3 linked regions of the Homo sapiens genome follow. The protein of the gene in region 1 purifies or fractionates together with the protein of each later gene. This does not show direct contact. Each region holds a gene or a part of one and is shown in the gene's direction. Other genes may lie near its edges.

Region 1 (7,510 bases):
AGTCTCGCTCTGTTGCCCAGGCTGGAGTGCAATGGCACGATCTTGGCTCACTGCAACCTCCGCCTCCCGGGTTCAAGTGATTCTCCTGCCTTAGCCTCCTGAGCAGCTGGGGTTACGGGTGCCCACCACCACGCCTAGCTAATTTTTGTATTTTTAGTGGAGACGGGGTTTCGCCATGTTGGCCAGGCTGGTCTCAAACTCCTGACCTCAAGTCATCCACCCGCCTGGGCCTCCCAAAGTGCTGGGATTACAGTTGTGAGCCATCGTGCCCAGCCCAAAGTAACTTTTGTTTCAAAAACCAATTATCCCTCTGATGCATTGTGGCCATCAAGTTTGGAGTTGTTGGGTTTCTAGGGCTCTAAACCAGAAACACCTCAGACCCAATGAAGACAAAAGCATCTATTATAATGTTTTCCTGTGTGCCCTGGGGCCCCATCCCTGTGCCCAAGACACCAACTTTCTGAGCTTTCTGAGAGCAAGACCTTGTTCATCTTTCTGTACACCAAGGTCTTAGTACAGCATCTAGAACCCTAGAAGAGTGTCTAGAAACTCGTGTGTGTGTGTGTGTGAGTGTACTGAATGAATCAATGAATGAATGTCTGTGTGGAGAAAGCCAGAGGGTATTTCAGACAGGGTCCCAAAGTATGTGTCCCTTGGTCAGATCACCAGATCTTGGGGATCGCAGGAACTGCCCCAGCTTTGTAGGTACAAAAGTCTGATTTATAAATATACCCAAGAGATGGCCACATATGAGTGGACTAGCTTATGGCAACCATACTTACAAGCGTGTACAGAAGAAAGTCAAGTTATAAATTATACCTTTGTAACTACAGGCATATGAAAATGTACTGCTCCCAGCATTCATTGGCCAGATTATTCTGCCTGGCAGCCATCTCTTCATAGGACCCCCCCGTAGGATAATCAGAGGGTTCCAAGAAAGCCTGGACTTTTCCACGTCAAGGGCTCTTTTGCAATGTGACTTTGATACTTCTCCCCTCAAGAGGTAGAATATAATTTTCCTCCCTTTGAATCTAGGTGGGTGCTGTCTGTGTCTTGCGTTGACTTCTGGGCCTAATTCTTCAGAAGCATTGCAATTTCATTTCATCCTTTTGGAGGCTGACCACCATTCAGAGAAGCTCAGCCTAACTACTGAATGTGGACAGTCTACATGGATGGAGAGGCAATGGGAAATGAACCAAAGCACCCCCAGCAGGGCCAGTACCCAGGACCCACACCTGTGAGTGTGAGGTTCCACTCCCATTGAGCCACCCAGCAGCCACTGCAAGGAGCAGAGACAGGCTATTCTTACTAAACACAACCGTGACCAACAAAAGGACTGAAAGTGATTTCAAGCCACAAGCTGCCCATATACAAAATGGATAACAAAAAGAGACTCAAAGCAAGAGGAAGTGGCTGTATTATATTAATTGTTAATATCACTGACTTCTGAAAGTCTGTCGCCTCGATTTCCACTTTCTCTGCTGTCCCGATGGTCAGGCTGCCTCTACTCCAGCAAGTCCAGAGACACTTTTCTGTTTCAGACTCTCTGAACTATCCTTTTGGAGGTACCAGTCACACCAATCCCCTTCAGAAAACACATACATTGTTGTCTTGATTCAATTTTAGGCCCTGCTTAGTTGTAAACTGAAAACCTCATTTAAGCTACTGGCTTGCTTCTAATTTCCTAGTATTTATTGTCTGCCACAAGCCAGACTCTGTCCTAGGAGCTAATGATACAGCAGAGGACCAGATAGACAAATCCCAGGCTCATGAAATTTACATTCCAGTATAACCTCAGATTGAAGAAGTACTAGCTATTGTCTTCATATACCAGGAATAAAAATATGACCCAAAGCATAAGTGCAGAAAGTACACTGGGCCCTAGAAACAACCTAAATAGCATCCAGCCCTCAGAATTTTATATAAGTCGATGACCAAAAGTGATTCCTCCTATAATTTTGAGATAAGTAGTTTGAGATTACCCAACAGATAGATATGCACATAGGGCACCAATAAAATAGAGGAACCAATGTATTTTTGTTTGTGAAATTTGATATATTTTTTAAAAGGATCAAAGCAGTCATCACAGGAAAAAAATCAGTATTTTATTTATTGCACTACACTTTTTAAAAGTAGTTTTAATGAATTAATTTTCTTTTTCTTTTTTTTTTTTTTTTTTTTTTGTAGAGAGTGTCTCACTCTGTCAGCCAGGCTGGAGTAAAGTGGTATGATCATAGCTCACTGCAGCCTCAAACCCCTGGGTTCATGTGATCCTCCTGTCTCAGCCTTCAGAGTAGCTGGGACAACAGGTGTGTGCCACCATGTCCAGCTAATTTTTACTTATTTTTAAATTTTTTAGTATTTTTTGGTAGAGATGAGGTCTCGCTTTGTTGCCAGAGCTGGTTTGTTTGTTTGTTTTTGAGATGGAATCTCCCTCTGTCACCCAGGCTGGAGTGCAATGGTGTGATCTTGGCTCACTGCAACCTCTGTCTCTGGGGTTCAAGTGATTCTCCTGCCTCAACCTCCCCAGTAGCTGGGATTACAGGCCCATGCAACCACTCCCGGCTAATTTTTGTGTTTTTAGTAGAGACGGGGTTTCATCATGTTGGCCAGGCTGGTCTCGAACTCCTGACCTCAGGTGATCCACCTGCCTCGGCCTCCCAAAGTGCTGGGATTACAGGCATAAGCCACCATGCCTGGCCACAGAGCAGGTTTTGAACTACTAGCCTGAAGCTATTCTCCCGCCTTGGCCTCCCAAAGTGCTGGGATTACAGATATGTGCCACGGTGCCCAGGCTTTAAGCAACTTTTAAAAACTATCATTTTTATTTCAAATACTTATGGAGATGGTGGTATGATAATCTTTTCAGTTTGTAACGCCCTCTAACTGTGTAAAGTAGATCTGAAGTGTTTTCCTGACCCTCACTGGGATGGTTATTTCAAGTACAAAACGTTTTCACACCGTGGGTGATAATCTTCCATAAAAAATTTCATATTTGAATGAAAACAGCTCAAGAAATACACTAATGAGCAAAAATATATGGGGAAAGAGGAACGTGTAGTTTTGACTTAACTGAAGAAACCAAGAGGAAACTGGTCTCCATATGAAAATGTGATCCTGGAAAGTCAGGTGTCAAGATTTTCGAGTAGGAATCTACATGACTTGAATCTCCCTTACTTCCTGAATAAAAGTGACATCTTTCAGTATTTATTTAAAAAAATCATATGTCAGTGGAGCTTCCAGGTAAATTATCTTTAAAAAATCATATTTGAGTGGAGCTTCCAGGTAAATTATCTTCCTCTTTTAAGGGAGCTCCCTGTATTTCTAGCGGCTTTAACTGATATCCCTTTCAGTGAGAAATCCTCATTAGCTACATAAGAGGGGACTGGGTGTTTTTTTCAAAAAGCTGGTATTGGGACATCTACCTCTGTGATGTCCCTGGTCAGCTATATTGTCTAGGAGTTGAAACATTTTGTATTAATTTTCTATCATTTACTGGGTGCCTCTTCTGTGACAGTGCCACTCAAAGGTCTATTGATATATTATCAGGTGACTGAATTCTATATTCTGAAGTAGGAGATACTGTTATTGCTGTTATTACATTTTACACATAAGAAAGCTGAGGCTCTGAGAGGTCAAGATCACGCAGCTAACAAATGAGCCAAGACTCTTGCTTTAGAGCTTGTCCTCTATTCTTGCTTTTCTTTCCAAAAAACACTACAATTTTTGTTTTGTTTTGTTTTGTTTTGAGACAGGGTCTCGAGGTGTCACCCAGGCTGGAGTGCAGTGGCGCGATTTCGACTCACCGCAACCTCCGCCTCCGCGCTTAAGCGATTCTCCTGCCTCAGCCTCCCAAGTAGCTGGGACTACAAGCTCGGGACACCACGTAAAAATGATCAAGTTCTAACATGTATGCATACGAATTACAATGGAAATAAAATTAGCAAAGCGCTTATGCTAATGCTCAATACAATTGATTTCCTCACATTTAATCCTCACAACCACTACAACCACCTCTAACTCAAGCTCTGAGGGACTGACGTGCCCGGAGGACACAGCTCTTATCTGGTGAGAACAGGAGCGTTTTAGCGAAACTCCAAACTCCTAGGTCCCGCCTTCCCCAGGAAGGCTTTTCCTGGCACTGTGCTTCCGGAAGTCCCGCCCCAGGAGAAAAACAGCTTCCGGAAAAAATTGCGGCCGGCAAACCGGAACAGAACTAGGGGCGGGGCCGCTTGAGACGCTCTAGTATTCCTCTACTCTATGGCCACTGTCAATTGACAAGTCCCGAGCGGTAAAGCTCCTTTCTATTGGATGAGCAGCCTCGCGTAGGCGGGAAGCTCGGTGCACGGCGCGCTGATTGGCTGGATCCGCCATGCGGAGCGGCTAGGTGGTGCACGGGAAACGCGGGCGTAGGTGACCGGCGGCTTTCTCAGTTTTGGTGGAGACGGGCGCATGTGGGCGCTTTGCTCGCTGCTGCGGTCCGCGGCCGGACGCACCATGTCGCAGGGACGCACCATATCGCAGGCACCCGCCCGCCGCGAGCGGCCGCGCAAGGACCCGCTGCGGCACCTGCGCACGCGAGAGAAGCGCGGACCGTCGGGGTGCTCCGGCGGCCCAAACACCGTGTACCTGCAGGTGGTGGCAGCGGGTAGCCGGGACTCGGGCGCCGCGCTCTACGTCTTCTCCGAGTTCAACCGGTCAGTCAACGAGCCACGCCCCGTCCCGCTGGGCCCTCAGTGCGGCGCAGCCTCTGAGCATCGGGGCACCTCCCAGGGCTTCGGCTTCCCTGCTTCACACATGTGGTTCACTGTTGCGGGGGTTCGTGGAGTTATGGTGGGTGGGAAATCCGAGATTCTTTGCATCCATGTGATTTCTGCGGATCTGTGAAGAACTTCAGGCCTGGGTCTGAGCGTCCTTTTCCCAACCCTTGGGCCCCGGCCTGGCTGTCAGCACTTTCGGAGCTCCACCCTCTTCCGTGCACCCCAAGGCCAGTGTGTCGTTGTTAGCGTGTGGGGTGGACAGATCTGGTGTGTAGCCGGTGGTGGAGAAAGGACTCATTTTGTCCTAGCACCCACACACACAGGCCCCCACTCCTCTCCACCTCTGCTAAGGAGGGCTCAAAACCCACCAGCATAAATGTGGCTCGGTAGTCCAACGTGGACTTTTAATTTTTTTTTCTTTTTTTTTTTTCCAGAGTCTACAATAAAACATCTAATTGGTGTCAGAGAGTTTACAGAATAAAACCTTCTGAATGTCTTGTGTAATGTTTGTCTTGTAGGTATCTCTTCAACTGTGGAGAAGGCGTTCAGAGACTCATGCAGGAGCACAAGTGAGTCAGTCTCTTGCTTTCGGAGGGGGAGTTGATTACGGGGCTTGAAAGCCGAAATGAGAGGCCAGTTGTTTTTTATAGCAAAAGTGGTCCTTGTTCTGTTCATGTTATCCTGTTTAAATGTTTTTTCATTCTTAGGTTAAAGGTTGCTCGCCTGGACAACATATTCCTGACACGAATGCACTGGTCTAATGTTGGGGGCTTAAGTGGTGAGTATATTCTTTGCAGTGTCAGAGGCTGGTGGGAAGTCTCTGGGATTTTAACCGGCTTTACCATTTTTCCAAGTCTGGGGTGGGCAGCTACTTTTTTTTTTTTTTTTTTTTTTGTCAGTGGCGTGATCTTGGCTCACTGCAACCTTTGCCTTCTGGGCTCAGGTGATCCCCTCACCTCAGCCTCCCAAATAGCTGGGACCACACGTGTGCCCCATCACACCTGGCTAATTTTTTTTGTATGTTTTGTAGCGACGGGGTTTTGCTATGTTGCCCAGGCTGGTCTCAAACTTCTGCGATCCTCCTGTCTCGGCCTCCCAGAGTGCTGGGATTACAGGCATGAGCCACCGCACCTGGCCTGGAATTCTTTTTATACCAGCCCAGTCAGCAGCAGCACAGAGCATTAAAAGCTGTGACTCAGGAGAACAGATTTTAATATGGATACCACCTCTTAAGTGTTACCATCCACTTAGTTTCTTGCGTTGCGGGGACAGAGATTTGTGGCAGTAAACTGGAGAGTCTAGCAGTGGTGATTACAGTTAATATGTTTACCGCAGACGCCATTGGCACATTGGCAGCCACACACATACCCACTGTCCAGATTACCCTGTCATTTATGTCTATCAACCGGAAGGTCAGGATTGTGTTGCAGCCAAATTGTGTGGGCTTGGTGGCATGGACCGGAAGGAGTGAAGTGTTAGACCAGTCTCCCTTCTCAGGGCTGAGACTAGGGTGAGGCACTTAGGGTGCCAGCCCTTCACTTGCATGATTCCTTACATTTTGCACACTGGGTGCCTTGCTGCTTCACCCTAGTGACAGCTCAGCCCATTCTAGAGGCATTTAAAGAATATTTGGTGTCTGTTACACCTCTAGCTGGCATCACTTCTGCTCTGTACATCTTCCCTGGTTGTACTTCCAAAGCTGGAAGGTGGAGATGTAGATAAATAGTTGGATTAGTACGGGGTGCTCCTCCTGTTAGTGACGACAGGTCAAATTGATGAGAGATCTGATTTTATGCATCCTTTTTAGGAATGATTCTTACTTTAAAGGAAACCGGGCTTCCAAAGTGTGTACTTTCTGGACCTCCACAACTGGTGAGTCTTTCCTGACACATCTTTCAAAAGCAATCTTTCCTTTTGTAATATCAGTAACAAGAATTTTCCTTTTTGCAAATCAGTCTTCTGCCCTCCAGAGATACCTGGTCGTTGAAACGCTTCCCCTTTCAAGTTAAAAAGACTTGAGTTCTGATTAACTATGTGACCTTGATCAAGTTACTTTACCTTTCTGAGCTTTAGTTTATTCATCTATAAGATGACTATCACGTTTCATAGAGTTGTTAAAGATTAAATGACGTAGCAGCACATATAAAGCACTAAATCACTTTATTAGATATATGTTTGGCACCAAGTAGGCACACAAGAAAGGGCAGCTTTTGTTTTTATTCAATAAATTTCTGACATCTTCTTACCTTTCAGTCCAGCTTATTACACTCTTGAGAAGGCGTGTGTGTGTTGTTGAATATAACAGTTCATTTTCCAGTCCTTAAGAAGAAAGTCACCAAGACCTGTTAAGTCTTTCCCCAAAATAACGTTTGAAATCCATCCATTTGTCTCTTATTGAGGCCTTCCTTATTTCTGTTTTCTATGCCTGTAAACTACAATAGCCTCCCATATTCATTCTCGCCTTCCTGTAATCCATCTGCCACACAGCAGCCAGAGAGGTCACTTCAAGACAGAAAAGTAGTGTGTCACTTGCCACCCTAAAGCCCTTCATGGGCTCCCCATTGCAATACAATCAAAACACCTTGATATGGCCTACAAGTCCTGTAGGCCCCGGCCGCTACCCACACTTCCATCTGTACCCATCGCTGAACTGCAGCTGCATGGGCTGACTCTTATGTCCCTCTAACTCCCTGGCCACTTCAGGACTTTCGCCCTTCCGCGGGTTCCCTCTGCCTCTTCTAATTGCTGCC
Region 2 (7,967 bases), on another chromosome or scaffold:
GAGGCTGAGGCAGGCAGATCACAAGGTCAAGAAATTGAGACCATTCTGGCAAACATGGTGAAACCCCGTCTCTACTAAAAATACAAAAATTAGCTGGGCGTGGTGGCGCATGATTGTAGCCCCAGCTACTCGGGAGGCTGAGGCAGGAGAATCGCTTGAATCCAGGAGGCGGAGGTTGCAGTGAGCTGAGATCGCACCACTGCACTCCAGCCTGGTGTCAGAGCGAGACTCCCTCTCAAAAAAAAAAAAAAAGAGAGAGAGAGAAAGAAAGTAGGAAAATACATTGCAATAAAGCAACCGGAAGGCTGCAAAAGAGGAGCCGACTGCAAAGAGACAAAGATTAGCTGGAGATTTTATAACATAGAACTTGGGCTGATTGATAATGCCAATGCACTGGCAGCATAACTTGCTTTCTTTTGTCAGCTGAGATGTTTGATAAATTGAGGCGTTTGTTGGTAAGCAGTAAGTTTTTGAGTTACGTACATTATCTGAGTAGGAGGGCCATATGTATTGGGCAATATGTCCTTGGGCATAAAGAAAAACAGACCTATAATTCATCCTCTTCCTTTTTTGTTTATATGTCCTGAACCGTGAAGACAGGCATATTTATAGCTTATTTGCTTTATCTCTTTGCTTTCCTCTGGTCCCGCCAGCCTGACTCCTTTTCCCTAATTAGGACTCCACAGTAACAACCATTCTACTTTCTGTTTCTGTACATTTGTTATATGTTATTCTTTATGACAATAACAAACCTTCACCCAATCTTTAGTATCCGCAGAGGTAGTCTGTCTACCTCTTTCACAGAGAATGCGAACTGTATCAAATTATAGCCATCATGTCTATAAATTGTCCTCCATACCCACCTTAAGTTTCTTCCTTTCTTCTTGTTACAATGAAAGTGGTATTTCTTCCTCTTATACGAAACCAATCTCTCCATCTCTCCTCTAAATAGCATCTCTCCTCTATATACCATCTCTGTTAATCTTCTCAGGAAGTCTACCCATCCCATTATCCTTTCTTTCTCTTACCCCTTTGCTGATGATTCTAACAGCATTTAAAATGTCAGGCCTCTCCCAATCTAACATAATAATAATGAAGAAAATTTTCCTGGACTCCACATCCAGGGACTGAGCACGCTGTCTTTTCTTTAGACAAATTTCATAGAAATGTTTAAACTTGCTGATTCTATTTTCTCATAATCTCCTCATTCCTTATTCACTCTCATCTGGCTAAAGCCCCCAAACCTCACAATGAAGGTCCCAGTGGCCCTTGTATTGCTAAATCTAGTAGATACTTTTCAGTCTGCATTGCATGATCTCTAGGCAATATTTGACCCTGTTACCCATCCACTTGTCTTTGAAAACACCTTTTCCTTGATTTCTATGTCATATTCTGGTTGTTTTCCTCCCATCTCTTTAGCTGCTTATTTTCAGTTTCTTTTGTCCATTCCTGTTCTCTACCCAAGCCCTAGGTAATCTCTTCCACCCATATGGTTTCACAGACTCTATGTTAATAACTCTCAAATATGTATCTTTGGTGCATTCTTCTTTCACCTAAACTCTAGACCCATACAGCCAACTGCCAAATATCCTAAAGGAGATATCATTTGGCTATTTTGAAGAGAGATGAAAAGCCGCATGTCTAACACTATACTTACCATCTCTGCCCTCACACCATATACTCCTTTTCACTGTCTGCCCAGGTGCTCAAACCAGACTATTGACTTGTTCCTCTCCTTCTCTCCCAAATTGATCACCAAATTCTGTCATGTCCAGCTCTTAAATATCTTTCAAATATTCCCCCTTTTCTTTGCCTTTACTGCCACCACTGTTGTCCAAGCCACTAACATCACTTACCTGATCTATTTAGTATTCATTCATCAGCAAATTATTATTGAGTTTCCGATACTTGCCAAGCACTGTTGTAGACATTGAAGGTAGAGCAGAGAATCAAATACAAGAGTTCTCTACTTTGTAAGTAACACCTAAATCTTTGAATCCATGCTTTGTCTTCCAACTCTTGAAAGAGACGTTGGTATAGAGAAATCGTTCTCTATTATATAATAAACAGTGCAGGCAAAATACATGGCAAATGACATTTGCACCAGTGTAGAAAAGATAACATGTGGTGGAATAAGCTCTGGGGAACTGGAGAGTGGGTGCCTTGACTACAAAACAGCCTTTATTTAGGTCTAACCATTGTTTCCAAGAAGAAATATGAGCCAAGAGAGAGCATTCAGACCTTCTAGTTTTTCAATTCTAGTGTTTATGTGACATTGTCTTATGGGTTTTTATATATTTCCTTGCTTTTAAAATTTATTTCTTTTTCTTTTCTTTTTTTGTGTATTTTTTGTAGAGAGAGGGTTTCACCACGTTGGCCAGGCTGGTCTGGAACTCTTGAGCCCAAGCAATCTGCCTGCCTTGGCCTCCCAAAATGCTGATTATAGGCATGAGCCACTGCTCCTGGCCTACAATTTATTTTTTATTTTTTTGATACCTTACATCCCATATTACAAGCTATTTTTCTATGCCAAAACATGTATTTTGAGGCCGGGCGCGGTGGCTCACGCCTGTAATCCCAGCACTGTGGGAGTCCGAGGCGGGCGGATCACGAGGTCAGGAGATCGAGACCATCCTGGCTAACACGGTGAAACCCTGTCTCTACTAAAAATACAAAAAATTAGCCGGGCGCGGTGGCGGGCGCCTGTAGTCCCAGCCACTCGGGGGCTGAGGCAGGAGAATGGCGTAAACCCGGGAGGCGGAGCTTGCAATGAGCCGAGATCGCGCCACTGCACTCTGGCCTGGGTGAAAGAGCGAGACTCCGTCTCAAAAAAAAAAAACAAAAAAACGTATTTTGAAAATCACTGTGCTTTTTGTTGGAGGTAAGATGTCTGAAACCTGGAAATATTCTTAATCTAGAATAGGTCAGATCCCAGACATATTGAATAAATTATGTTCTGCTATATTTATAGAAACACTTCCAAAGATTTTTCACATAAAGAATCTTAGTAAACTTAACAGAATGAAATTTCCTTTACTTGACAAAGATCATATAGCAAAAACCTTCATAAAATATTAATGGAAAAACTTCAGATGTATCTCTTTAAAGAACAGGAACAAGAAAAAATAACCTCTACACTGCTATTTGTTATAACTACTAGACGATATTTATTCTTGATTTTTTTCCATGTTTGGGAGTAAACTCATGATTATTTTGCTATCACCACCTCACCTTTCTAACATGATAGTAATCAGTCTCTTAGACAAGATCTCGTTTTTTAAAATCATTTGGAAAAGACTATGCCTACCTTCTTTTATTTTAGTAAACTATATACAATATAAACATTTCCATTTTAGTCATTTTCAAGTGTACAGTTCAATGGCATTAAGTACATTCACGTTCTTGTACAACCATCACTACTATCCATCTCCAGAACTTTTTCATCATCCCATACTGAAAATTCATACCTATTAAACAGTAACTGCCCATTCTTCCCTTTCCCCAGCCCCTGGTAAACACTATTCTACTTTCTTTCTTTATGATTTGACTATTCTAGGCACTTCATATAGGTGGACTTATACAATATTTGTCCTTTTGTGCCTGGCTTATCTCAGTGTATAATGCCTCCAAAGTTTATCCATGTTGTACCATGTATCAGAACTTCATTCCTTTTTAAGACTGAATAATATTCCATTGTATGTACATGCAACATTTTTTAATCTATTCATCTGTTCATGGATATTTGGGTTGCTTCCACCTTTTGGTTATTATCAATAATGCTACAATGACATTAGAGTACAAGTGTCTGTTTGTGTCTCTGCTTTCAATTTCTTTGGGTATATTACTAGGAGTAGAATGGCTGCAGAATATGTTCATTCTGTGTTTGGTTACAAATATATGTGGAGGCTGAATTGGCCCCAAAGGCCACCAATTTACAAATGTGTTTTAATTTCATTTCACATTAAACTTTCCAAATGAGCTAGGAGGAGACAGAAACTTACCGTGGCTTATCACGTTCCAAGCATAGTGCCAGGTACTGGTGATAAACTGGTCAAAAAGATTAGGAGTTTAAAGTCCTAGCGTCAAGGAGTTTGAAGCTGAGTAAGAAGACGTGTGAAAAAAACATACTTTATTTTAGTACTCTGTCAGCAAATGTTTATAAATACAGGGCCCAAACAGAGAGTAGGTTGAAAAGAGGATTAGAAACAGTTTTTTTTTTTTTTTTTTTTTTTTTTTGAGACAGAGAGTCTTGCTCTGTCGCCCAGGCTGGAGTGCAGTGGCGCGATCTCAGCTCACCGCAACCTCCGCCTCCCAGGTTCAAGCGATTCTCCTGCCTCAGCCTCCCGAGCAACTGGGATTACAGGCGCGCGCCACCACACCTGGCTAATTTTTGTATTTTTAGTAGAGACGGGGTTTCACTATGTTGGCCAGGCTGGTCTCAAACTCCTGACCCCAAGTGATCCGCCCGCCTCGGCCGCCCAAAGCACTGGGATAACAGGCGTAAGCCAACTGGCCCGGCCCAGAAGAAGTTTTTAGGATATATGGAGGAAAACACAACACAACACAGCTACAACTCCGTGACAACTGAGAGCGTAGTCTTCGAGTACCCAGTTGCCTACTGACAGCCGTCTCCTCTAAGGCGCTTCTTTTAGCCAAGAAAGCGTTCTTTGCGTGCTGTGACGTAAAAAGCAGCGCCGGAAGGGAGAGGGCGGAACTTCCGGCTGAGCCCCAGCGACCGCTCTGGTCGGCTGTGTAGACTGTTGGGTAGGCTGCGTGCTAGCTTCGGCGCGGATCCCTGGGCGTCCGTACGTCGGAGTCCTTCGTCCTCCAGGGTCCCTGTTCTTTGCGCCAGCGGGAACCACTATCTCTGCACTCCTGGTAAGCGAGTTTCTTCTTTCGCCTAATGTGTGTGTTGGGGGTGGGAGGACGCCGGAGACGTTCCAAGATGCACTTAGTGGAGCATGTGCGTTCGGAAGGCCCACGGGTAAGAGGAAGCCCAGTGATTTTAATAAACTATAACTAGTACAGTACCTGAAACAAAATCAGTGGTTCCTGAAATGATGTACTTGATTGCTTTTTACAATTGGGGTTTTCATTTCTGTGGTATTCTAAGTCCTTGCCAGTTACAAGAATAAAACTTTTAAAACTCCTTCTGAAATCAATGTTTATTAGATTGGGGCCTGGGGACCCCAGTTAAATATTTCCGGGATTCTAAAGTAAATTGTTTTCTCTTTAAAGGGAGGCTGAGCCGGGCGCGGTGGCTCACGCCTGTAATCCCAGCACAATGAGAGGCCGAGGTGGGCGGATCACGAGGTCAGGAGATCCGAGACCATCCTGGCTAACACAGTGAAACCCCGTCTGTACTAAAAATACAAAATAGCCGGGCGTGGTGGCGGGTGCCTGTAGTCCCAGCTACTCGGGAGGCTGAGGCAGGAGAATGGCGTGAACCCTGGGAGGCGGAGCTTGCGCCGAGATCGCGCCACTATACTCCAGCCTGGAGTGACAGAGCGAGACTCCGTCTCAAAAAAAATAATAAAGGGAGGCTGAACTTTTTTTTTCTTTTTTTTTTTTTTAATGAAGGAAGCATCGATCTAGGGTATTAGAAAAATATTTGCGTGATTACTGTGAGCCAAATACTGTCAAGCATTGGATTCAATGTTAACATTATAGACAAAGTCCTTGTCCTCATGGACACTAGTTAGTCCTTACCATCTAGTGAGGCAAATAGATAACCAGGCAATTACAGTGCAGTGTTAGAAGTACTGTCATAGGCACCAGAGTGCTGTGAAAAGTAATGGTGGAATACTTGAAGTGTGAGGTGAAGAATAGCTAGAGATGCTGCTGACCTGGCCGCAATAAGCTTAGAAATATATGTTGGGAACAATACCAATGGATAGCAATATCCCTTGAAACAGAACATTGAAGGAGGATCAGATTGTGAAGCAAAGGTAGAGGGGTTATTTCGATTTGTTGCGTTTGAGGTGTTTTTTGTTTGTTTTTGTTGTTTTGAGACAGTCTTACTCTGTCGCTCACTGCAACAGATTTTGTTGCAAAATCTCGGCTCACTGCAACTTCCGCCCCCCTTATTCAAGCGATTCTTCTACATCAGCCTCACGAGTACCTGGGAAGTAGAAGAATCGCCCCACTTCAGCCTCACGAGTACCTGGGATTACAGGCATGCGCCACCACACCTGGCTAATTTTTGTATTTTTAGTAGAGACAGGGTTTCGCCATGTTGGTCAGGCTGGTCTCAAACTCCTGACCTCAAGCGATCCTCCCTCCTCGGCCTTCCAAAGTGCTGGGATTACAGGAGTGAGCCACTGCACCCGGCCTGCATTTGAGATGTCTTTCTAATGCATGGTCATTGAAGCCACAGAAGTAGGTCACATCTCAGAAGGGAAATGTATAGATTGAAAAAAAAGAATAGGATAGAATGCGGAGTTACATCCACCTTTAAGGGAGGGGCATCTGGACATCAGTGCACAGGTCAGAGAGCAGGAAACCTAGGAGCCTGTGCAGGGTCATTAAATGAAGCCAAGGGAAGAAGGAATTTTTCAAGTGTTTTATTTGCATTTTGTAAAAATTTGAATTCCCTTTATTTCTTTTCCTTCAAATTTGAGACAAGTTTTACATCTTTAAGCATCTTCAATATCTCATGGACATCCAGGCTTTTAGGATAAAACTGTGGAGCTTTATATACATTTATATACATTTGTCTCAATCTTGGACATTTTCTTTGTTAATAACATTATTTGCTGCAAAATAAAGCCTGAACTGGGGAAGAATTTGTTGCTATTTTTTGATCAGTAGATCTTGGTATATTTCTGTAACGAGGGCATTGGTACAGCAGTTTCTAAGTGCTTTTTACCTGTTGCCATTCTCAGTACCTTTCATGTCCTTTGTCTTTATTTGTTGCTTTTGTGAAGGATCTTATGTTTGGTTCTGTATCTGGGCTTAGTGTAGAATGGAGGAGTATGCAGCATCATGATGTCAGCTGCCTCGGTGGTACATAACTTTGTTGCCCAGTAACATTGATTCTCTGGGCCCCTAGATAAAAATCTAAAAAGGATCTTCAACTTATCCTTTTAGCTAAAGCAATAGTGAAATTCATGTCTAAAATAAGAACCCAACTTTTTTTTTTTTTTTTTTTGAGACAGAATCTCACTCTGTCACCCAGGCTGGAGTGCAGTGGCACAATCTCGCCTCACTGCAACCTCCAACTCCCGGGTTCAAGCAATTCTCCTGCCTCAGCCTCCCGAGAAGCTGGGATTACAGGTGCTTGCCACCATACCTGGCTAATTTTTGTATTTTTGGTAGAGATGGGGTTTCTCACCATGTTGGCCAGGCTAGTCTTGAACTCCTGACCTCAGGTGATCCACCCACCTCAGGCTCCCAAAGTGCTGGGATTACAGGCATGAGCCACTGCGCCCGGCCAAGAACCCAACTAAGTTTTAAACTTTTTACTCAATGAGTGATCACAGGCTGTAGACCACAGGAGTCTAGGAAAAAAATTGGTACAAAGATTTTACCTTGTGTTTCAAAAATTGATTTTATTTTGCTATTTCAAATTTATACTTGCACAATTAGTTGAGAAGTTATAAAAATCTTTGTCTAATTTTTAATTGCATTTTTCTTCTTTTACAGGGGTTTTGTTACATGGCTGCTTTCCTCAAAATGAGTGTTAGTGTCAATTTCTTCAGACCTTTCACCAGGTTTTTGGTGCCATTTACCCTTCATAGGAAGAGAAATAACTTAACAATTTTGCAGAGATACATGTCTTCCAAAATACCAGCTGTTACTTATCCTAAAAATGAGAGTACACCCCCTTCTGAAGAGCTAGAGTTGGATAAGTGGAAAACTACCATGAAATCTAGTGTGCAAGAAGAATGTGTTTCAACAATCTCAAGCAGTAAGGATGAAGATCCTCTAGCTGCCACCAGAGAGTTCATTGAGATGTGGAGATTGCT
Region 3 (7,255 bases), on another chromosome or scaffold:
CAGGTCCCTGGGTGCTCTGGCCAGCGGCTCACAGACCCCCAGCTGGGCCTCACTTCCATGTCATGAGGGGACCACCATGGCCTTGTTCTGAGGCTGGCTCAGGGTCACCAGAGGGTCAGTGGCAGAAGAAGGTTTTGAAAAATGGAGCCCAATCCCTTGCCTGCTCCAGGCACTAGAGGGCCCTTCCTAGGCTGCCTGCAGGATCAGGGTGGACCTGGGTATGGGGCCATGTCTTGATTGTCCTCCTTTCCCCTTGGGTGGCAGAGGAAGGACATCCTTGCAGAGTTGACCAAGAGCCAGAAGGTTTTCTCAGAAAAGCTGGACCACCTGAGCCGCCGTCTTGCCTGGGTCCATGCCACTGTCTACTCCCAGGTGTGCTGGTATTGCAGCTGCCCCTTCCCGACCTCACTGTCTGGCCACGGGTCTAGCAAGATTGTGCCAGGGCCCTTGATGCCCCCACCCTCTCAGGCCTCTGGCACACACATGTCCCTTCCCACACTTCAGACTCCATCACCCCATGCCATGTCCCCTGTACCCCTCATGCTCTGTGGACTGAGGAAGCGCAGTTTCTGGACCTCCAGTTCGCCTCATAGACCTGTCCTTCGAGGAACAAACTCTGTCTGTCTGCCTCCCCTGCTCCCACCCCCTCCCAGTTTCTTGGCCCCCGTCCTTCTCTCCCAGTGCATCAGGGGCTCTGCAGTCTTTCCCGGAGGCACACTCCACCATCTGTGCCTGCCTCTGTCTGACTCATTACCACCCGAGGCCACTGGCTTGTTCCCCACTCACTCATTCACTTGCTCATTCATTCAATAACATGCACTCAAAACCTGGTGTGTGCCAGGTGCTGTCCTGGAACTAGGGACACACACACATTAATAAGTCAGAAAGATGAGCCTCTGCCTTCTGAAGGCACTCAGCCTGGTCAGATACATGGATGGACAGACAGATGGATGGGGCACTCCTGCTGTGACTGAAGTTTCACCCCCAGGCCTCAGACTCTCTGGACTTGTTTCCTCTCCCTGCCCCTCTTGGCATCTCTTCCCTAACCAGTGAGTGCCCTGAGGGTCTCTTCAGGTGCCCAGGTCAGGGTATCTGCTGTCTTCTTGGGCATACCCCTGCATGACTGGGTGATCGAGGCCTTTGGTATCCCCATTTCTATCATCTCTGCTTGCTGTTTCTTCTCATGGCTCTTTTGCAAAACCCAAACCACCTCCACCTTTTTCCCATTCGTGACTCTCCTGCTACCCTGGATGACCGTGCTTACTGCCCCATGACGGGAACTTCCTCTCCCTTCTGCCCTGAGATTTCCTGCCTGCCCACCTCCCTCAGAAGTTTGGCTGCCCTCTCCCACACTGTCTTCTCAAGACCCTTGCCCTCTCATCTCTCTGCCTTTTTTTAGTTATGCTAAAATATGTGTGACATAAAATGTACCATCCTAGCTGTGTTTTTTTTGTTTTGTTTTGTTTTGTGTTTTTTTTGAGACAGAGTCTCACTCTGTTGCCCAGGCTGGACTGCAATGGCATGATCTTGGCTCACTGCAACCTCTGTCTCCCGGGTTCAAGCAGTTCTCCTGGATTATAGATGTGCTACCGCGCCCAGCTACTTTTTGTATTTTTTGGTAGAGACAGGGTTTCACTTTGTTGGCGTGGCTGGTCTCAAACTCCTGGCCTCATGTGATCCTGCCACCTCGGCCTCCCAAAGTGCTGGGGTTACAGGCGTGCGCCACTGTGCCCGGTCACCCATCATAGCCATTTTTAAGTGTTAAGTCTATTCACATTGTCGTGCAGCCAATCTCCACACTCATTTCATCTTGCAAAACTGATACTCCGTGCCTGTTGAACAAAACCTCCTGTCCTCCCTTCCCCAGCTTCCCTGACAGCTCCCACCCATCCCCACCTGTCAGCAGATCCCTGGGTCTGGCAGCTGGGGGAGCAGTGGTTCTGGCATCAGGTCCCTGAGTGCTCTGGCCAGCGGCTCACAGACCCCCAGCTGGGCCTTACTTCCATGTCATGAGGGGACCACCATGGCCCTGTTCTGAGGCTAGCTCAGGTTGCCCCTGGCAACCACCATCCTACTTTCTGTCTCTGAATTTGACTATACTAAGCACCTCATCTAGGAAGAATCATACACTATTTGTTCTTTTGTGTATGGCTTTAGCATAATGTCCTCAAGGTTCATTCGTGTTATAGCATGTGTCAGAATTTCTTCATTTTCCAGGCTGAATAATATTCTGTTGTACGGACACCACATTTCATATATCCAGTCCTTTGCTGATGGACACTCGGGTTGCTTCTACTTTGGGCTACTGTGAATAATGCTGTAATGAACATGGGTTTGCAAAGATCTCTTTGAGACCCTAATTTCAATTCTTTTGGTTATATACCCAGAAGTGGAATTACTGTATCATATGGTAATTCTGTTTTTTATTTTATTTTTAATTTTAATTTTTTATTTTTTTTGAGATGGAGTCTCACTCTGTCACCCAGGCTGGAGTGCAATGGTGCGATCTCGGCTCACATCCTGGGTTCAAGTGTTCTCCTGCCTCAGCCTCCCGAGTAGCTGGGACTACAGGTGCGCACCACCATGCTCGGCTAATTTTTGTGATTTTTTTTTTCTTTTTTTGAGGTGGAGTTTTGCTCTTCTTGCCCAGGCTGGAGTGCAATGGCGCGATCTCGGCTCACGGCAGCCTCTGCCTCCCAGGTTCAAGCAATTCTCCTGCCTCAGCCTCCTGAGTAGCTGGGATTACAGGCATGTGCCACCACGCCCAGCTAATTTTGTATTTTTTTTTTTTTGAGACAGAGTCTCACTCTTTCACCCAGGCCGGAGTGCAATGGCGCTATCTCAGCTCACTGCAAGCTCCGCCTCCCGGGTTCACACCATTCTCCTGCCTCAGCCTCCCGAGTAGCTGGGACTACAGGCGCCTGCCACCACGCCCGGCTAATTTTTTGTATTTTTAGTAGAGACAGGGTTTCACCGTGTTAGCCAGGATGGTCTCGATCTCCTGACCTCGTGATCCACCCGCCTCGGCCTCCCAAAGTGCTGGGATTACAGGCGTGAGCCACCGCGCCTGGCCTAATTTTGTATTTTTTTTTAGTAGAGATGGGGTTTCTTCATATTGATCAGGCTGGTCTTGAACTCCCGACCTCAGGTGATTCGCCCGCCTCGGCCTCCCAAAGTGCTGGGGTTACAGGCGTGAGCCATCGCGCCCTGCAATTTTTGTATTTTTTGTACAGATGGGGTTTCACCGTGTTGGTCAGGCTGGTCTTGAACTGCTGACCTCAGGTGATCCGCCTGCCTCGGCTTCCCAAAGTGCTGGGATTGCAGGCATGAGCCACCGCGCCCGGCCAATTCTGTTGTTTAATTTTTTGGAAACTACCATATCATTTCTACAGTGGCTGTGCCTGTTACATTCTCACCAGTAGTGCATGAGGGTTCCAATTTCTCCATACATATCCTTACCGACACTTCTTATTTTCTGCCCTTTTTTTTTCTTGGTAGACGCAGGGTCTCACTATGTTGCCCAGTTGTCAAACTCCTGGGTTCAAGGAATCCTCCTGCCTCGGCCTCCCAAAGTGCGGGGATTATAGGCATGAGCCACCACACCCGGCAATTTCTACTTTTTTAATAGTAAATCCTAATGGGTAGGATATGGTACCTTATTGTGGTTCTGCATTTTGCTAATGATTAGTGACATTATGACAAATAGTACCTTTACAAGCACTTATTGGCCATTTGCATATCTTTTGTTTGTTGGTTTGTTTGTTTTGTTTTGAGAGGGAGTCTCGCTCTGTGGCACAGGCTGGAGTGCAGTGGCAAGATTTTGGCTCACTGCAACCTCTGCCTCCCAGGTTCAAGCGATTCTTCCACCTCGGCCTCCTGAGTAGCTGGGACTATAGGCATACGCCACCACGCCCGGCTAATTTTTGTATTTTTAGTAGAGATGGGGTTTCACCTTGTTGGTCAGGCTGGTCTCAAACTCCTGACCTTAGGTGATCCGCCTGCCTCGGCCTCCCAAAGTGCTGGGATTACAGGCTTCAGCAACCGCGCCTGGCCATATCCTATAATTTTGCTGAATTTATTTATTAATCCTAGTTGGGGTTTTGTGTGTGTGTGTGTATCTTTAGGATTTTCTACTTATAAAATCATGTCTGTGAACAGAGATAATTTTACTTTATCCTTTCCAGTGTGGTTTCCTTTCTTTTTCATGCTTAGTTGCTCTGGCTGGGATTTCCAGGACTGTGCTGAGCAGAAGTAGAGAAAGTGGCACACTTGTCTTGTTCTTGGTCTGAGGGAGGGAGGGATTATAGTCTGTTACCACTGAGTGTGATGTTAGATGGAGGCTTTTCATATATGGTCTTTATTATGTTGAACTGCCTTCATTCTCTGCATCTTCAGCACTAACTCACCTGTGTCTTTCTAATCCCATTATTAATGGAGAGATTCACTCCTGTAAACCAGCACTTTGGGAGGCTGAAGCGGGAGGATCACTTGAAGCCAAGAGTTCATGACCAGCCTGGGCAACCCATCTCTACAAAAAAAACAAAATTTAATTAGCGGGGCATGGTGACACATACCTGTAGTCCCAGCTACTCTGAGGTCAGGAGTTCAAGACCAGCCTGGCCAACATGGCGAAACCCCATCTCTCCTAAAAATACAAAAATTAGCAGGGCGTGGTATCACATACCTGTAGGAGGATCACATGAGCCCAGGAGTTCCAGGTTACAGTGAGCTGTGATTGTGCCACTGCATTCCAGCCTTGACGCTATATGTGCCCAAAAGTTATGCTCTCTCCTTCTTTCTCTGTCTTAGCTGCTACATCTTCCCCTTCATCTCCCTCCAGCACAGGCTCTTCCCCATCTCTGAAATAGTCTCACCAGGGTCTCTGTCTGCCCCCATCTCAATCCGGCCGGCACATTTCCATCTCCTTTGCATTGATACCTTAGCTCTGATGGGGCCATTGCCAGCCCCTCACCAGACACAGTCTTCGCTGGCCTTCTGTAGCAGCAGGATCATCGCTGCCTAGGTTTGCGCCTAGGCCCTCCCCTAACCTCTTGCTTACATCTTCTCCTCAGTTCCTTGGGCTTTAGGGCACATCAGAGAGCTGGTGTGAAGCCCAGGTGCTGTGACCGCACTCCAAGACACACGGGTGCTGTGGGTCTGGGCTGGGGCCTGAGGCCTCATTCTTGCCTGGGCTCCTTTGTGAGACCCTGACATAGACTTTGTGGAAACCACATTGTGGGGAGCAGGGCCCTCAGCAGGTTTTGTCTGTTTCCTGTGACCTCTGTTCCACCAGTCACACTGCCCCCTGCTTTCCCACCACCTTCTCCTTTGCACTCCAGATCAAATTTCTGCCTGTCTGCTTACCATCGCCAGCTCTCTTGGGCCCTTCACACACCTTGTACTCCACTTTTCCACACAGACTTCCAGTCACAGCACCCTCTTGCCTAAAACTTGCTTACAGGCTGAGGCAGGCAGATCACCTGAGGTCAGGAGTTCAAGACCAGCCTGGCCAACATGGCGAAACCCCATCTCTACTAAAAATACAAAAATTAGCCGAGCGCGGTATCACATACCTGTAGTCCCAGCTACTCGGGAGGCTGAGGCAAGACAATCCCTTGAACTTGGGAGGCGGAGGTTTCCAGTGAGCCAAGAGGGCGTCACTGCACTCCAGCCTGGGTGACTCCATCTCAAAAAAAAAAAAAACTTGCTTACAAATATGCTGACCAGAGTTCTGGCCTGGGTCACAGTAATGCGCCCTCCAGGCTGAGTGCGTCCCTCTTGCCTGCTGAGGACTTGATTGCCCTGCTTGAGCTACTGCTCATGCTTCCTGAAATCCAGGTCTCAGTTGTGCTGTCGTAGGCCTGGGGAGGCCTTTCCTGATCCCCAGGCCAGGACATGCCCCCAAGACCCCACTGGTGCGCAACCCAGCAGCACCCCGTGTGCCTCCTGCAGGAGAAGATGCTGGACATCTACTGGCTGCTGCGCGTCTGCCTGCGGACCATTGAGCACGGTGATCGCACAGGGTCTCTCTTTGCCTTCATGCCCGAGTTCTACCTGAGCGTGGCCATCAACAGCTACAGTGCTCTCAAGAATTACTTTGGTCCCGTGCACAGCATGGAGGAGCTCCCAGGTGATGGAACCATTCAGGCTGAGGCAGAAGCAGAAAAGGGGTCTCTAGTGTGAGCCCTAGGAGCCCTGGTCTGAGACCTCTGTGGCCCAGCAACACACTTCTGTGGGGGGCGGGGAGGGGAGGAGCTTCCTCTGTGGTTCACCCTGCAGCAAACAAACGTCTGCACCCTGCCCTGGGACCTGCAGCCACAGAGCCAACAGCTCCCTAGCAAAGGAAAACAGACAAGATGGAACACGGTGGGTGTAGACCTCTTGGCTTTCACTTCCTTCCTAGTGCTATGAGCAACTGCCATGGTCCAGGAGCCAGCTGGCCTTGCACCTTGACTCCCTGGCACTGGTCACAAAGCGTAGCAGTTGGTCAGGGGCAGAATGGTTTGTCTTGGTAAATCACAGCAGGGGGTGGACCCTGCTAGGGTCCACATCCGAACCTGGGCCTCTCAGCCTGCTGATTCCAGGCTGGGCGTGGCAGTGTATGTCTGGATCAGGCAGTGAGCTGTCAGGCCCCTAGCCTGCCCCCTGCCCAGCCACAGGCCTCAGTGCAGGCTTTGTCTTCAAAGACAGAGCTGTGAGTGCCCAAGGAGCTTTGACTGCTCATCAGGTGTGTGTGCTGAGATGGGTTTGAGCCCAGGTCAGGGCTCCTGCCAGGGCCTGTCATCCCTTCACAGTGAGCCTGTGCCTTAGCCCTTGCACAGCCACCAATGAATGCTTTGCCCGATGTCCCCAGATGCCACCCTGGGTCCAGGCTGGCCTTGGGAGCCAGCTCTAGAGCCTGCTACCCAAGTCCACCCACCCTGCTGACATGCCTGCCTCTGGAGCCCCCACTCCCAGCCGACACGTCTCACTTCCCACCCTTGCAGGCTATGAAGAGACCCTGACCCGCCTGGCTGCCATTCTCGCCAAACACTTTGCCGACGCACGCATTGTGGGCACTGGTGAGGGGCCCCTACAGAGGGTACAGGGGGAGGGGGATGGGATGGCACCTCTGGTCGGCTTTCTTCTATGAAAAATGTGGCCAGGTGGGCATGAAGTATGGGTCCAGGGCTCATGCCAAGCCCCTGCTGAGGCACGGTGTGTCCCCGCAGACATCCGAGACTCACTGATGCAGGCCCTGGCCAGCTACGTGTGC

What was found. Proteins that work in one complex are often made in the same cells at the same time.
Region 2: the proteins of ELAC2 (region 1) and TRMT10C purify together in Homo sapiens (co-immunoprecipitation; 3 studies listed by BioGRID and IntAct, with this or other methods). This does not show direct contact.
Region 3: the proteins of ELAC2 (region 1) and RNF123 purify together in Homo sapiens (co-immunoprecipitation; 3 studies listed by BioGRID and IntAct, with this or other methods). This does not show direct contact.

The regions. Positions count from the first base shown.
Region 1 is NC_000017.11:13,014,890-13,022,399, reverse strand, and holds the start of ELAC2 (zinc phosphodiesterase ELAC protein 2), read left to right. Parts: upstream 1-4,372; 5' UTR 4,373-4,452; coding exon 4,453-4,697; intron 4,698-4,735; exon of another isoform or gene 4,736-4,833; intron 4,834-5,278; coding exon 5,279-5,329; intron 5,330-5,467; coding exon 5,468-5,538; intron 5,539-6,567; coding exon 6,568-6,632; intron 6,633-7,510. UniProt on the Homo sapiens protein: Zinc phosphodiesterase, which displays mitochondrial tRNA 3'-processing endonuclease activity. Involved in tRNA maturation, by removing a 3'-trailer from precursor tRNA.
Region 2 is NC_000003.12:101,557,126-101,565,092, forward strand, and holds the start of TRMT10C (tRNA methyltransferase 10 homolog C precursor), read left to right. Parts: upstream 1-4,742; 5' UTR 4,743-4,878; intron 4,879-7,644; 5' UTR 7,645-7,656; coding exon 7,657-7,967. UniProt on the Homo sapiens protein: Mitochondrial tRNA N(1)-methyltransferase involved in mitochondrial tRNA maturation. Component of mitochondrial ribonuclease P, a complex composed of TRMT10C/MRPP1, HSD17B10/MRPP2 and PRORP/MRPP3, which cleaves tRNA molecules in their 5'-ends.
Region 3 is NC_000003.12:49,706,527-49,713,781, forward strand, and holds part of RNF123 (E3 ubiquitin-protein ligase RNF123), read left to right. Parts: intron 1-264; coding exon 265-372; intron 373-5,952; coding exon 5,953-6,130; exon of another isoform or gene 6,131-6,366; intron 6,367-6,986; coding exon 6,987-7,061; intron 7,062-7,211; coding exon 7,212-7,255. UniProt on the Homo sapiens protein: Catalytic subunit of the KPC complex that acts as E3 ubiquitin-protein ligase. Promotes the ubiquitination and proteasome-mediated degradation of CDKN1B which is the cyclin-dependent kinase inhibitor at the G0-G1 transition of the cell cycle.